Linked DNA regions of Homo sapiens. The protein of the gene in region 1 interacts with the protein of each later gene in a pairwise test. Each region holds a gene or a part of one and is shown in the gene's direction. Other genes may lie near its edges.

Region 1 (7,035 bases):
TCAGCTAGTCTGTTAAATCCTTAAGCTCTTGAAGGCTGTGCATCTGCATCCACTGAATTATAGCAAGGTTTGTTTCTTAAGGATTTTAGCAGTACCTCCTGAGGAATTAAAATGTCATCCTTGAGTTGACTTCATAGAGATACATTGCTTACACTGAGAAGAAATGACTACTATTATTTTTTAAAGATAATATAAGTATTATATTTTATCTTAACCCCTTTAATGGGGTAGTTTGTGTAATTGGAAAACATGGGACTATAGTTGCATTGAATTCAAGGTGACATTTATTGAGACCCTACATTGGAAAAGGTAGGATTCTGATAATTATGTAAGATGATTAAGTGTTAGTCTTTACTGCCGTAGGAGCTCAGAATCCAGGAGCAAATATACATACATAATGGAAATACAGGACAGTCTCTGCTAAGTTCTGTAAAAACAAGTGCTATTGAAATTGAGAATAAAAAGAGTGTAAGTCTAATTAAGGGAAATCTGACTATCTTAGAATGCTTCCAACGGTAGGTGGTTATGAGCTGGGCCTTAAAGAATGGCCCCAAATAAGGAAGGTAGTTTTTGAGGAAGGGTTTTTCTGGCAAGAAGTCAGCCCAGTGGAGGAAGGTGGAAAGGAAAGTTTCAGGTGTATTCCATTACCTGGGAGCAGACATGAATGAATGGAATGTAAGAGGGTAGAATGGGAGATCGGATGGGAGAGTTCAGTTGGAGAGCATGTCATGGAGAGCTTTGAATGGCAGTCTGGGTAATTTTTTTTTTTTTTGAGATGGAGTCTTGCTGTGTTGCCCAGGCTGGAGTGCAGTGGTGTGATCTCGGCTAACCGCAACATCCGCATCCCAGGTTCAAGGTATTCTCCTGCCTCAACGTCCCAAGTAGCTGAGATTACAGGCGCTGCTACTTTGCCCGGCTAATTTTTCATATTTTTAGTAGAGATGGGGTTTCACCGTGTTAGCCAGGCTGGTCTCAAACTCCTGACCTTGTGATTCACCTTCCTCAGCCTCCCAAAGTGCTGGGATTACAGGCTTGAGCCACCACAACCAGCTCAGTCTGGGTAATTTTTAAAATGCAGAATCATAAAGGTTTTCGAGCAAGAGAATGATGTGTGATCAGCTCTAGGTTTTTGTTTTTTGTTTTTTTTTTTTTAAAGACAGTCTCGCTCTGTTGCTTAGGCTGGAGTGCAGTGGCACAATCTTGGGTTCAGCGATTCTTGTGTCTCAGCCTCCCAGGTAGCTGGGATTACAGGCATGCACCACCACGCCTGGCTAATTTTTGTATTTTTTTTTAGTAGAGACGGGGTTTCACTATGTTGGCCAGGCTGGTCTTGAACTCCTGGCCTAAAGTCATCCACCCGCCTCAGCCTCCCAAAGCACTGGGCCACTGCACCTGGCCCAGCTCTGGTTTTAAGAAGAGAACTCTTGGCTGGGCGCGGTGGCTCACGCCTGTAATCCCTGCACTTTGGGAGGCCAAGGTGGGCGGATCATGAGGTCAGGAGATCGAGACCATCCTGGCTAACATGGTGAAACCCCATCTCTACTAAAAATACAAAAAAATTAGCTGGGCATGGTGGCGGGCACCTGTAGTCCTAGCTACTCGGGAGGCTGAGCCAGGAGAATGGTGTGAACCCGGGAGGCAGAGCTTGCAGTGAGCTGAAGATCGTGCCCCTGCACTCCAGCCTGGGTGACAGAGTGAGACTCCGTCTCAAAAAAAAAAAAAAAAAAAAAAAAAAGGAAGAGAACTCCTTTTAGGTAGATTGGGAGAAAGACAGCAAGGGGATCTACTAACACTATTGTGTTTAACCAAGGGAGAAATGCTGAAAGCCTGAAGAAGTGGTAGGAGTAGAAAAGAGGGGCCGATGTGAGGAATGTCATAGATTCAACAGCTGATTGCTTCCTTGGCTGACAGCATACAGGAGATGAAGGAGAGAAAGGAGTTGACAGTCGTCTCAGGGTCTCTGGCCGGTTGTCTGAGAGAATGAGGTATACTGAAGGAGAAGCTGACAGGAAGGGAGAAGAGGGGAGATGATGAGCTCGATTTTATAGTTTAGAGCAAAGGAATCATTGGATAACCCAAAAGAGCTGTCCAGCAGGCAAAGGGAAATGTGGGTTTGCAGCTGAGAAGGAGGGAGGTAGCTGAATGTAGAGATCTGGGGATTGTTTGCTTGGATGGTGGCTCTGGGTATGGGGATGAATAAGATGCCTTGGTAGGGTGGGACCAGCAATACAGCTATGGGCAGAATCCTAGGAAACGGGCAGAGTTGAGGGATAAGCTGAGGAACAAGAGGGTGTGAAGAGCCGAGAGGAAGCAGTATGTGATAAAGGAGGACCTGTGGAGAGTTGTGTGAAGTGGGGAGAGAACTTTCCTGGCCCTGCCATTTATTTACCTGCCTTGCCATCGGCAAGTAGACTAAGCTCTTGGGCCTTACCTTCCAGTGAAATCAGAAAGTTAGACTACATAAACTTTACAGGCTCTTCAATGAGAAAAGATCTTAGGAAAAAAAATTGAAATCAATTCAAATGGATATTGTGGTTTTCTCTGAATCCCTCTAGCTGTTTGTTCATATCACTCATCTAACACTGAATACAGACTGCTGTGTGTTGATGTTTTATACTTCTGTGTAAACTTTTGAGCCGTGACAGATGGTGTCACTCCCATTCTTGATTATTCATTTGTTCACTCATTCATGTCTAACATATCTGCTGTGTGCATCCTACATGCTGCTATATACTCAGTGCTAGGAGCACAGTGAGCAAGGCACAGTCCCAGAGCCTCAGTGGCTTAGAGGGGTTAACTAACAAGAAAAAACGCAATTACAGCTCAGGAAGAAAAAGTTCCTATCCACAACAATAGAACATGTGTTGTATTTGAGTAAAAGAGAAAAAATGATTAGGAATCACTTTACTTAAATATTTTTACTGCTATAGGAAGACAGATGGCTTTCTTAACATATGAATCAAAAATTGGGGTGTTTTGATAAACTTCAAGTAATTTAAGAAAAGCCTAGTGAGTGATGTTGAATCACTTTTACCAACTGATAAAATATTTGAACTATCATTTTCACAATAACCATTAGTTGAATGATTCATATAATTGATATAAGCAGTGTTTCACAAGTACTTGAAACAAGTAAATCCTATAAAAATTCAACATATAAATAACTGGAAAGTAAAAAATGAGTTTTTAACAAGTAGGATAATTATTTTCTTGGATGTCAGTAACGAGAAAAATATGTGGAAATGAAGCAAAAATGCAATCTTCTAAGACTTTCCTTAGCTGTCAAAACCTAGGGAGGGCCAGGCACGGTGGCTCACGCCTGTAATCTCAGTGCATTATTTGAGTCCAGGAGTTCAAGACTAGCACCTGGGCAACATGGCAAAACCCCATCTCTATTAAAAATACAAAAATTAGCCAGGCATGGTGGTGCGCACCCGTAATCTCAGCTACAGTGCACACCTGTAATCTTGGCTACTTGGGTGGCTGAAGCATAAGAATCACTTGAACCCGGGAAGCAGAGGTTGCAGTGAGCCGAGATTGCGCCACTGCACTCCAGCCTGGGAGACAGAGCGAGACTCTGTCTCTAAAAAAAAAAAAAAAAAAACTGAGGGAGAACTTTACTGGTAAGAAGTTGTCTTCCACTCCTAAAGAGGAAATCACTTTTTTTTTTTTTTTTTTTAAGAGACAGGGTCTCACCGTGTTGCCCAGACTAGCCTTGAAGTCCTGGGCTCAAGCAATCCTCCAGCCTCAGCCTCCCCAGTAGCTAGGATTACAGGTGTGCACCACCACATTCATCTGGAAATCGCATTTCTGATTGTATTATTCTTTCTAAAGAGGGGCTTGCTTATAAGCTTTCCTTCTACGTTATAATGTGAGGACACATTGGGACACAAGCGTACAAAGTACAATTCATTCATTATTCAACACATATTTATCGAATTCTCACAAGGTGCCAGACAGTTGCCATTCTCCAATTAGGAATAGGTTAGTGAGCAGGACACAGTTCCTGTGCTGCCAGGAGGGAGAGAGAGACGATAAGAAACACACCTGGCTCACACCTGTAAGCCCTGCACTTTGAGAGGCTGAGGCAGAGGAGGATCTCTTGAGGCCAGGAGTTGTAGACCAGCCTGGGCAACAAAGGGAGACCCCATCTCTACAAAAATACAAAAATTAGCCAGTTGTGATGATGTGTACCTATAGTCCCAGCTTCTTGAGAGGCTGAGATGGGAGGATTACTTGAGCCCAGGAATTTGAGGCTATATTGAGCTATGATTGTGCCATTGCACTCCAACCTGGGTGACAGAGCAAGACCCTGTCTCTAGGAAAGAAAAGAAAAGAAACATTCCAGATAATGAGAAGTGCTATGGAGAGAATTAAAATAGGATGATGTGGTAGAGACGCCTGCCTGGCCACTTCAGGCTGGGTGGTCAGGGAATGCCCTTTGAAGAGGTGAGAGTAAGACAAGACCGGAATGACAGGAAGGACGCAGCTGTGCAGAGACCTGGGGAGAGGAGAGACTTCAAGGCAGAAGGAACAGCTCAGCGATAGTGCGCTAAATCTTTCCTTGCTTTAATTTGAATGCACTGACAAATCCTCCTCTTCCTTTGGGGCTCCAGCGAAAGGTTTTTAAGTGTAATTTTATGACTGATATTCCCAGAGAGTGAACTGACAGGCTAGGAGTGACGATAAAAGCGGGTGTGTGGAAGAAAACAGGGCAGAGACCAGGATGAGGCAAATGAGATGCTTCAGGCACAAAATGTAAGGCCATGCAGTGCAAATGACTCACAGAGTTCTGCCTCCCTGCATTTTGCACCCTAAGCACTTCGCTAGCCTCACTCTTGTCACAGCCCTGGGAAGAAGGGAGAAGTAGAGTTGTGAGATATGCTGGTGCTTTGAAGATCCAGCAGGTTTGGGTGTAGAGGGGGAGATAAAATGGAAAACATTAAAACAGCCTAGGAGGAGGACCGCCCCCCCCCCCCCCCATATACATACTTCCAGCCCCAGGACCCGGATCCCACACAGCAGCCCTCCGCCTGGGGGCACCCTTCACAGCTTCTCAGGATGATAGACTGTCATGCCCCACGAGTCTGGGTACGTTTCTTTAGCTTCTTGAGTTCATAACTGGACTGGCAGTGTGAGAAGCACACAAGGCCACCCTGTGTGGCACCTGTGACAGCAGGCATGCCAGATTGCCTGCCATTGGTTAAGGAGACAGCTGCCAAGACCTGAAGGGACACCACTGCTTATCGAGGGTATCTTTCTATAAGGATTCTACTGCTACCATCTTTTACAGATAGGTGTCAAGTAAAAGTTGTCTGTGTTGGGAAATTCCCAGAAAGGTGATCTGTTGGGTGAGTTCCTCCCTGGCCTCCTACAGAGCCAGCTAAGGACAAGCTGAAGGATAATGGCAGCATGGCAGGAACAGGCGATCTGAATTAGGTGACAGGGAATGATTTTCAGCCTCAGCGTTGCAGTATTGTGTGCCTGAATCAAAATACCACCACTCCCTATTTTTTGTGTGCTAAATTTTAAAGGATTATTACATTACCACACTGTGGAATCTCTTTTGTTTGTTATCCTTTAAAAAAATGCTGTTTTCTTTTTTTCTTTTTAAAAGAATATGGATTGTGCTCAGTTCCGTTTGAAAATAAGCTCTATCTAGTCGGCGGACAAACTACAATCACAGAATGCTATGACCCTGAACAAAATGAATGGAGAGAGATAGCTCCCATGATGGAAAGGAGGATGGAGTGCGGTGCCGTCATCATGAATGGATGTATTTATGTCACTGGAGGATACTCCTACTCAAAGGGAACGTATCTTCAGAGCATTGAGAAATATGATCCAGATCTTAATAAGTGGGAAATAGTGGGTAATCTTCCCAGTGCCATGCGGTCTCATGGGTGTGTTTGTGTGTATAATGTCTAATTGAATCTGCAGAAATGACCAAGCAATCACTTTTTTGGAGTATAGTTTTATAAAAAAAGAATGCAGGGTTTGAAGTTCCTTACCTGATAATTGTGTCTGGCACATGATAGGGGATCAGTAAATTGTAATTCCTAACCCTACTGTACTCCCAAACATGGTGATTCATGGTCAAGAAAAATCTTATATATATATATATATACACACACACATATATGTGTTCATATATATGTATACATATATATGTGTATATATACGTATGTATACATATATGTGTATATATACGTATGTATGTATACATATGTGTATATATAGTATGTATGTATACATGTATGTGTATATATACGTATGTATGTATACATATATGTGTATACATATATATGTGTGTATATATATACACATATATACGTATATATGTGTATATATATACACAGTTGAATCAGTGGGATTAATACCTATAATCTCTGGTTTTCAAAGGTAATATAGAATATTTGACACTTGGTAAAAGGTGAACTACCTTTGTAGTGAATCTTTTCCTCTTGGTAGCATCAACACTGGGGATAAATCAGAACCATTCTGTGGAATGAAATGTTTCTCAAGAGCCTATAATATAGTAGATAGTGCATATTAAGATGTCTGGCTGGGCATGGTGGCTCATGCCTGTAATCCCAGCACTTTGGGAGGCTGAGGCGGGAGGATCACTTGAGCCTAGAAGTTGGAGACTAACCTGGCGAGACCCTGTCTCAAAAAAAAAAAAAAATCAATTTAGCTAGCAGGAATTTGACATTTAAAGAGGGAATCTTCTCTACCTCTACAAAATCAACCCTTAACACTTTTTTCACCTTCAGAATTATTTAGAATGTGGATTTACTTTGTCTAGTTTTTTCCTTTATAGTGTAATTTATTGTTACTCTCTATTTACTGACTACCAGAGATATACAAAATACTGTGCAAAAGATTGTTACTGTTCAAAGAGCTTACAAACTAAATTTAAAAGAATAGCAAGTCTGAAAAATAGAAGATAGTCAAATATTTGTTTATGCTAAGAACTGTTTTTAATTTTCAGCTTTGATGTAAATTGCTAGCTTAGTTGTCTTTAGTTCAAGCATG
Region 2 (7,035 bases), on another chromosome or scaffold:
CCAGATTACCCTGTCTTTTTGTGTTTTGTTTTTAATATTTGCCCATGGCAATCTCATTTTCTTCCCCAGAGGAAAAACTGCTACTGAAGCTGCTGATGACATCATCAATAACCACCTCCCAAAGCTGAAGGAACTTGGCAGAAATGGGGAAATACACGTGGACAATATAGACGTATTTTGTGAGAAAGGTGTCTTTGATCTCGATTCCACCAGAAGGATTCTTCAACGTGGAAAAGATATAGGGTTACAGATTAACTTCCATGGGGATGAACTCCACCCGATGAAGGCTGCTGAGGTGTGGTTGACTTTTAGTTTTTCCCTCGTCAACATTCATTCTTGCACATTCATGCTATGGGAAACTTAATTAGTTTCTTCAAAGCCCTCTGAAAAGATATTGAATGGGGAAATTTGTTTGAACAATGTACAGATTGGTCTGGTTGAGACTTGAAAACCCTGACCTCTATTAAAAACTTACTTTTTTGCTGATGATTTACTTTCATTATCATCCACTGGTGATATTAGTATTAATAGCAAAAGAATTGGCTGGGCGCGGTAGCTCACACCTGTAATCCCAGCACTTTGGGAGGCCGAGGTGGGTTGATCACGAGGTCAGGAGTTTGAGACCAGCCTGGCTAACACGGTGAAACCCCATATCTACTAAAAATATAAAAAATTAGCGTGGTGGCACGCGCCTGTAATCCCAGCTACTCGGGAGGCTGAGGCAGGAGAATTGCTTGAACTGGGAGGCACAGGTTGCAGTGAGCCGAGATCATGCCACTGCACTCCAGCCTGGGGGACAGAGCAAGACTCCATCTCAAAAAAAAAAAGGAAAGAAAAGAAAAAGAATTACCTCAGTGATCTCTTTTACTAAATTTCTAAAGTATTTTGCTTGGCACACAAAGCCACACTAGCACAGTATATTAATTTCACTTGTACCTTTTCAGATCTTTCTGTGGCAGCATCCAAATCATTTTAGTGGAGCACACCAAAAATAGCCACAAGATGATTTTCAAATCCATATATCTTTGCTCAAATTAATTCACTTATTCATCCTTTCAACAAATATTTGAATGAATACTGTGTGCCAGGCACTGTTTTAGGCATTGAGAAATCAGCAGTAAGACAAAGTCCCTACAATCATGAGTCTAGGCTTCTCTCCTCTAAAGCCTGAGACCTAAATAAACAAGCCCTTGGGGCATAAATACAGACATAGATACCCCACCTGCATGCCTCTTAACTGGCTTATATCCAGCTTGATCTCTTCGTATTTCTTCCAAGTCTTGTCCCATTTTCTGCTTCAGTAAATGACGCCATCACCTGTCTGTCGCTTAAGTCAAAATCTTGGATATCATTTTGACTGCTGCCTCTCCCTCACCTACCGCATTTCATGCAAACACCAATTCCTCCCAATTCTCCCAAATAGCTCTAGATCCCCTTATCTCACCTCTGATCCATAAGATTCATAAAGTTTTCTGTTTCAGAAAATGTCTGAAGGATTTGTGTTTAAGAATAGTTTTTGAAGTAGCCCACTAGCTAATTTTCAAATGAGTGCCCATTACAAACCCTTTACCCATTTGGGGGATTGGGCTTACAACGGTTGGTTGGCAAGAAATCTTAATAATAAAACGCTGTTTCTCTTTATGGGAAAAACAATTTAGGCCATGCTCGGTGGCTCACGCCTGTAATCCTAGCACTTTTGGAGTCCGAGGCAGGCGGATCACGAGGTCAAGAGATCCAGACTATCCTGGCCAACATGGTGAAACCCCATCTCTACTAAAAATACAAAAGTTAGCTGGGCATGGTGGCACACGCCTGTGGCCCTAGCTGCTCGGGAGGCTGAGGTGGGAGAATTGCTTGAACCCAGGAGGCGGAGGTTGCAGTGAGCTGAGATTGCACTACTGCACCCAGCCTGGCTACAGAGCAAGACTCCGTCTCAAAAATAAAACAAACAAAGCAATTTAATGGAACTTCATGGATTCGTTGTTGCTATTTGTTAAATCTTTCCCTCTCTGCCCATTCTCCTTAGCTTGGGGCTGAACTGGGAGCGCAGGCAATCAGCCACCTGGAAGAAGTGAGTGATGAAGGCATCGTTGCCATGGCAACGGCCAGGTGCTCTGCCATCCTTCTGCCCACCACAGCCTACATGCTGAGGTAAGGTCGTTTCTCACCCCAGACCAAGAGCTGCAAGTACAAGCTGTGAAGACACAGACGTCCAAAGTGCCCAGACATTATTTCATTGCCCTTACAAATCCCTTAAAAATGCAGATGAAGAAAACTCAGCTAATGAAGATGCCAACCCTGGACTGATGTTCGTAAACGAATTTCTCTGAGGAAGGAACTTAGACCCAGATTGCCTTTGAGTGGCAGGATTATTGAGGAAGATGGTGCTTTCTTTTTCTTTTTCTTTTTTTTCATGGATTTTGGAATTTTTCAATTAAAAAGAATTACTATGCATTACTTTTATAATTAGTAAATAATGAAATAGGTGCTATACTTTTAAATATATGCATAAGATGTTAAAGATATTTAGCAGTATTCAGAATCTGCATGAGCTGTTTTCTAAAGGGATGTTAGTGGGTACCATAATTGCCATAAATCTTTATAAATCCTGGGGGTGGGAGGAAAGAGGAGACATATATTTTATAAAATCTCCCCAGATATTTTGCTGTATGCTGTCTATGAATTGAATATACTTAGTTCGTCTGTTATTACTGTTGCTCTGATTCTAACCAATATGAGATCTGAGGTCTTCTGACACTTCCCATTGTACCACTTACTTATATGATATCCAAGATTGTGGTCTGGGAGGCCAGCAGTCAAGAGGAAGTTTATCTTCTCTTAGGACTAGGTGCTTTCTGTGTAGCTAGGACATGTGGTCTTTTTCATGGGGAGTGATTCTGCAGTTAAGACAGTGGTTCTCAACCCCAGGGTAATTTTGTCCCTCAGGGGACATTTGGCAATGTCTCGAGACATTTCTAGTTGTCACAACTAGGGGATGCTACTGGCATCTAGTGGGTAGAGGCCAGGGTTGCTGCTAAACAGTCCTCATTGCACAGAACAGCTCCCAAAACAAAGAATTATCCAGCCCAAGACATGAATTGTACTGAGGTTAGGTAAGACCAGGCTCCAAGTAACTTTTAGAAGGGCGAAGAAAGGAATACTTCAGTGCTTTTCTCAAATCTACTATGATTTTATATGCACATGTATGATATTATACATTTTTATTATTATTACTATTCTCTTAAAGAGTAAACACAATGTAGACTATAATCAGGAAATATCAATAACGGTTCTTGGTATGACCAACGTCTTATACATTTCAAGTGTCATCAGTCTAAGTCATCAATCAATATTTGTCTCCACCACCCAAGAAATAAGTTTTTTGTTTTTTATTTTTTTGGAAAGAAAAGGCTTTCTTCGGCTGGGCACAGTGGCTCACGCCTGTAATCCCAGTACTTTTGGGAAGCCGAGGTGGGCAGATCACTTGAGGCCAAGAGTTCAAGACCAGACTGGCCAACATGGTTGAACTCCGTCTCTATTAAAATACAAATTTAGCTGGGCATGGTGGCGCGCGCCTGTAGTCCCAACTACTCGGGAGGCTGAGGCAGGAGAATCCCTTGAACCCAGGAGGGAGAGGTTGCAGGGAGCCAAGATCATACCTCTGCACTTCAGCCTGGGCAACAGAGTGAGTGAGATTCCATCTTAAAAAAAAAAAAAAAAAAGGCCTTTCTTTAACTAGTCTTGAATCTCTTGACATGGAGCAAAAGCCTAAGACTTTGTGGTACTGGAGGGCAATTCAGCATTAAAAGTCTGAACTTTGTTCCTATACCAGCGGAGGCTGTCATCTGCCATTGCCACAGACAGGTTTAGCCTCCTATTAGGACCACAGGGGCAGTCGAAGTGAAGGCCACACTCTGCTTTCTGGCTTCTCGTTTCTATATTTTTCTGATCTCTGCATCAGGAGAGACCAGCAGGGCCCCCTGCTCTCCCCTGAACCCTCTCTTGACTCTCATTTCCAGAATAACCATTGCCTTATGCTACTTAAGGGCTTGCTTTAATCATGTATTTTATGTAAATTTGCATGTAATATTTAAATGTATTCAGGAAATATTCACCTTGGTTTTTATGGAGTGCCCTAATACTTTTACAGCCTCACTTTTTCCTCTTTTACCCCTAAGTATTTATGGAAGGGGGGGAGGGCCATTCAAATGACTTGCAGGGACATTTGAAGCTGTACCCTTTCCTCACTCTCTGTCTCTGCTTCACTCACCTCCTCTCATACGTTGTTGAAAAACATTTTAAGTGGTCCTACAAATGATCGATCATAGACTGGGAGTGACTCTAGGATGAGAATTATCTCTGCTGGACTCTTTCTCTATTGCAGCTGTTATTCCCAAATTAAATCTGTCCTCATTGCTTTAACGAGCTTTTAGGCTTTGTTTATTTTTGATGTAACACTTTTGAGATATGTCTTAAAGAATAAAGAATATTTCACCAGGGAGGTCAAGGGGATGCCTAATCCAGGAAGAAGTATAAACATTTTACACACTAAATTCTTGGGCCTTCAAGATTTTAAAGGACCTACAGAGATGTTTGAGGCAAAAAAAAAAAAAAAAAAAAAAAGAGGGCAAAGGGAGAGATGTGAATAGGAAATTGCAAAATGGAAACTAATAAAAATAGCATATTGTGGCTGGGCACAGTGGCTCATGCCTGTAATCCCAGCACTTTGGGAGGCCAAGGTGGGTGGATCACCTGAGGTCAGGAGTTTGAGACCAGCCTGGCCACCATGGTGAAACCCCATCTCTACTAAAAATATAAAAATTACCTGGGCGTGGTGGTGGGTGCCTGTAGTCCCAACTACTCGGGAGGCTGAGGCAGGAGAATCGCTTGAACCCAGAAGGTAGAAGTTGGAGTGAGCCGAGATCGTGCCACTGCACTCCAGCCTGGGCAAGAGACAGAGATTCCATCTCAAAAAAAAAAAAAAAAAAAAAAGCATAGTGTAACCTCATTTATTATTTAATTTGGGAGTCACCAAAAAGCTTATTAAATTCCAAAACCATTTGTAAGTTATATTTTCCTCCCTTTGCAAGAATGCCTTAATATGTAAAAAGATGGATGAGATAAACAATCATTAATTAAATGTTAGTCATATCTAAGTAACTGCAAAAGCAGAATGATAAAAATCAGGAGTCCTTGGATTATATATGTAACTCTACCACTAATCATTTAATCTTGAGTTTCTGCTTCTTCTTCCAGAATATGAAGGCGTTGACTGTCTCAAGTTCTCTTCTGTTCTGAACAGCTATTCTACAAAAGCTCCCATTCTAGAGACTGACATATTTTTTTCCTCCCCTTAGACTGAAACAACCTCGAGCCAGGAAGATGTTAGATGAAGGAGTAATAGTTGCTCTGGGAAGTGATTTCAACCCCAATGCATATTGCTTTTCAATGGTAATTATTTTTTTCATGTACCTTTCTGAGCAGAGTATCTACCAAGCATATAAATAATTTAAAAATATTTCACTAGCTTTTAAAACAGTATAAAAAATCTAAAAATATTTTTCTGTGAAACAAGAAAAAAAGGGGTAGACAGCAGTGTAATTGGATTTTTCTGTCCCACATAAATGCCTGCAGGCATAGAGAGAGGAGAGAAGCTTCTACATGCATTATTTTCTGATTCAGCTTTGAGTATTGTAGTTTTACAGTAACCCATTTCCTTTCTCCAGAGAATAGCATAAACTCCAAGAGGTCTTAGTAAGTATGGAAGTGAACTTCATTGTGTGCAGTAAGTGGTCTTGAAAAGTTGTCAATAAATATTAAATACGCAATCCCTATAATAAAGTAATCTTTTCCAAAGTCTAAGAATCTTTATGTATAAACTTAGATTTTTCCCATTGCAACTGAGCCAATTCCTCCTATACCTTTAACTGCCTCTATTTGTTGTGCTGTGTTGAGAAATGTTTTAAATTGCAGTTGCCATATGTCACTTTCCTCCAACACTTTTCTCTTCCTGCCTTAGCCAATGGTCATGCATCTGGCCTGTGTAAACATGAGAATGTCCATGCCTGAGGCCTTGGCCGCTGCCACCATCAATGCAGCTTATGCACTGGGAAAGTCTCACACACACGGATCGTTGGAAGTTGGCAAACAGGGAGATCTCATTATCATCAATTCATCCCGGTGAGTGTGCTTCAACTTAGCTCTTTTATATTATGCCCACTGAAGTATGCAGATGAGGCCTAAATCCCTTTTCCACTAATTATTAGTGTCAGACTCTGTCTGGACTCAGACACTATCCAGTCCCCTCTATCTTGATCCCTTTCCAAAGAGCAAATCTACTGACAGACCCTAAACAACAGGGTAGACCAAGTTTTCAAGATCTCTTCATCTGTCTGGTATTTTTCGTAGATTTCCAGATTTCTGCTCTGTTTACCTGGACTTTGGCCGGGTTGTGCCCTCTGGCATGTGTTTGTGTTTTTCTGCTCGGCTTCTGATTTTCAACTTGCTCCCAACTCTGGCTTCTCACTTTGGTTCTGATTCATTCCCTCTCTGATTTCTCATGCCGACTGGCTCCCAAAAGCTTAAACTTAGTTTTCTTGTTCCTGGTGACTTATCACTCACCCACCCATAGTCTGTTGCCACCTGGGCCTCCAGTGTAATATTAGTCTGTTATCACACTGCTAATAAAGACATACCGAGACTGGGTAATTTATAAAGGAAAGAGGTTTAATCGACTCACAGTTCTACATGGCTGGGGAGGCCTCACAATCATGGCGGAAAGCAAAGGAGGAGCAATGTCATGTCTTAAATGGCAGCAGTCAAGAGAGCGTGTGCAGGGGAACTCCCATTCATAAAAACATCAAATCTTGTGAGATTTATTCACTATCATGAGAACAGCATGGGAAAGACCCACTCCCATGATTCAATTACCTCCCACTGGGTCCCTCCCACAATGTGGGAATTATGGAAGCTACAATTCAAAATGAGATTTGGGTGGGCACATAGCAGCAAACCATATCAGGGTTTTACTGTTCT

What was found. Proteins that work in one complex are often made in the same cells at the same time.
Region 2: the proteins of KLHL23 (region 1) and AMDHD1 interact in binary tests that used the Homo sapiens proteins (3 or more experiments, as listed by UniProt).

What each region holds. Positions count from the first base shown.
Region 1 is NC_000002.12:169,743,805-169,750,839, forward strand, and holds part of KLHL23 (kelch-like protein 23), read left to right. Parts: intron 1-5,617; coding exon 5,618-5,928; 3' UTR 5,929-7,035. Other genes in the region: PHOSPHO2-KLHL23 (kelch-like protein 23), read left to right, coding at 5,618-5,928.
Region 2 is NC_000012.12:95,960,329-95,967,363, forward strand, and holds part of AMDHD1 (probable imidazolonepropionase), read left to right. Parts: intron 1-69; coding exon 70-295; intron 296-2,026; coding exon 2,027-2,151; intron 2,152-5,357; coding exon 5,358-5,451; intron 5,452-6,019; coding exon 6,020-6,180; intron 6,181-7,035.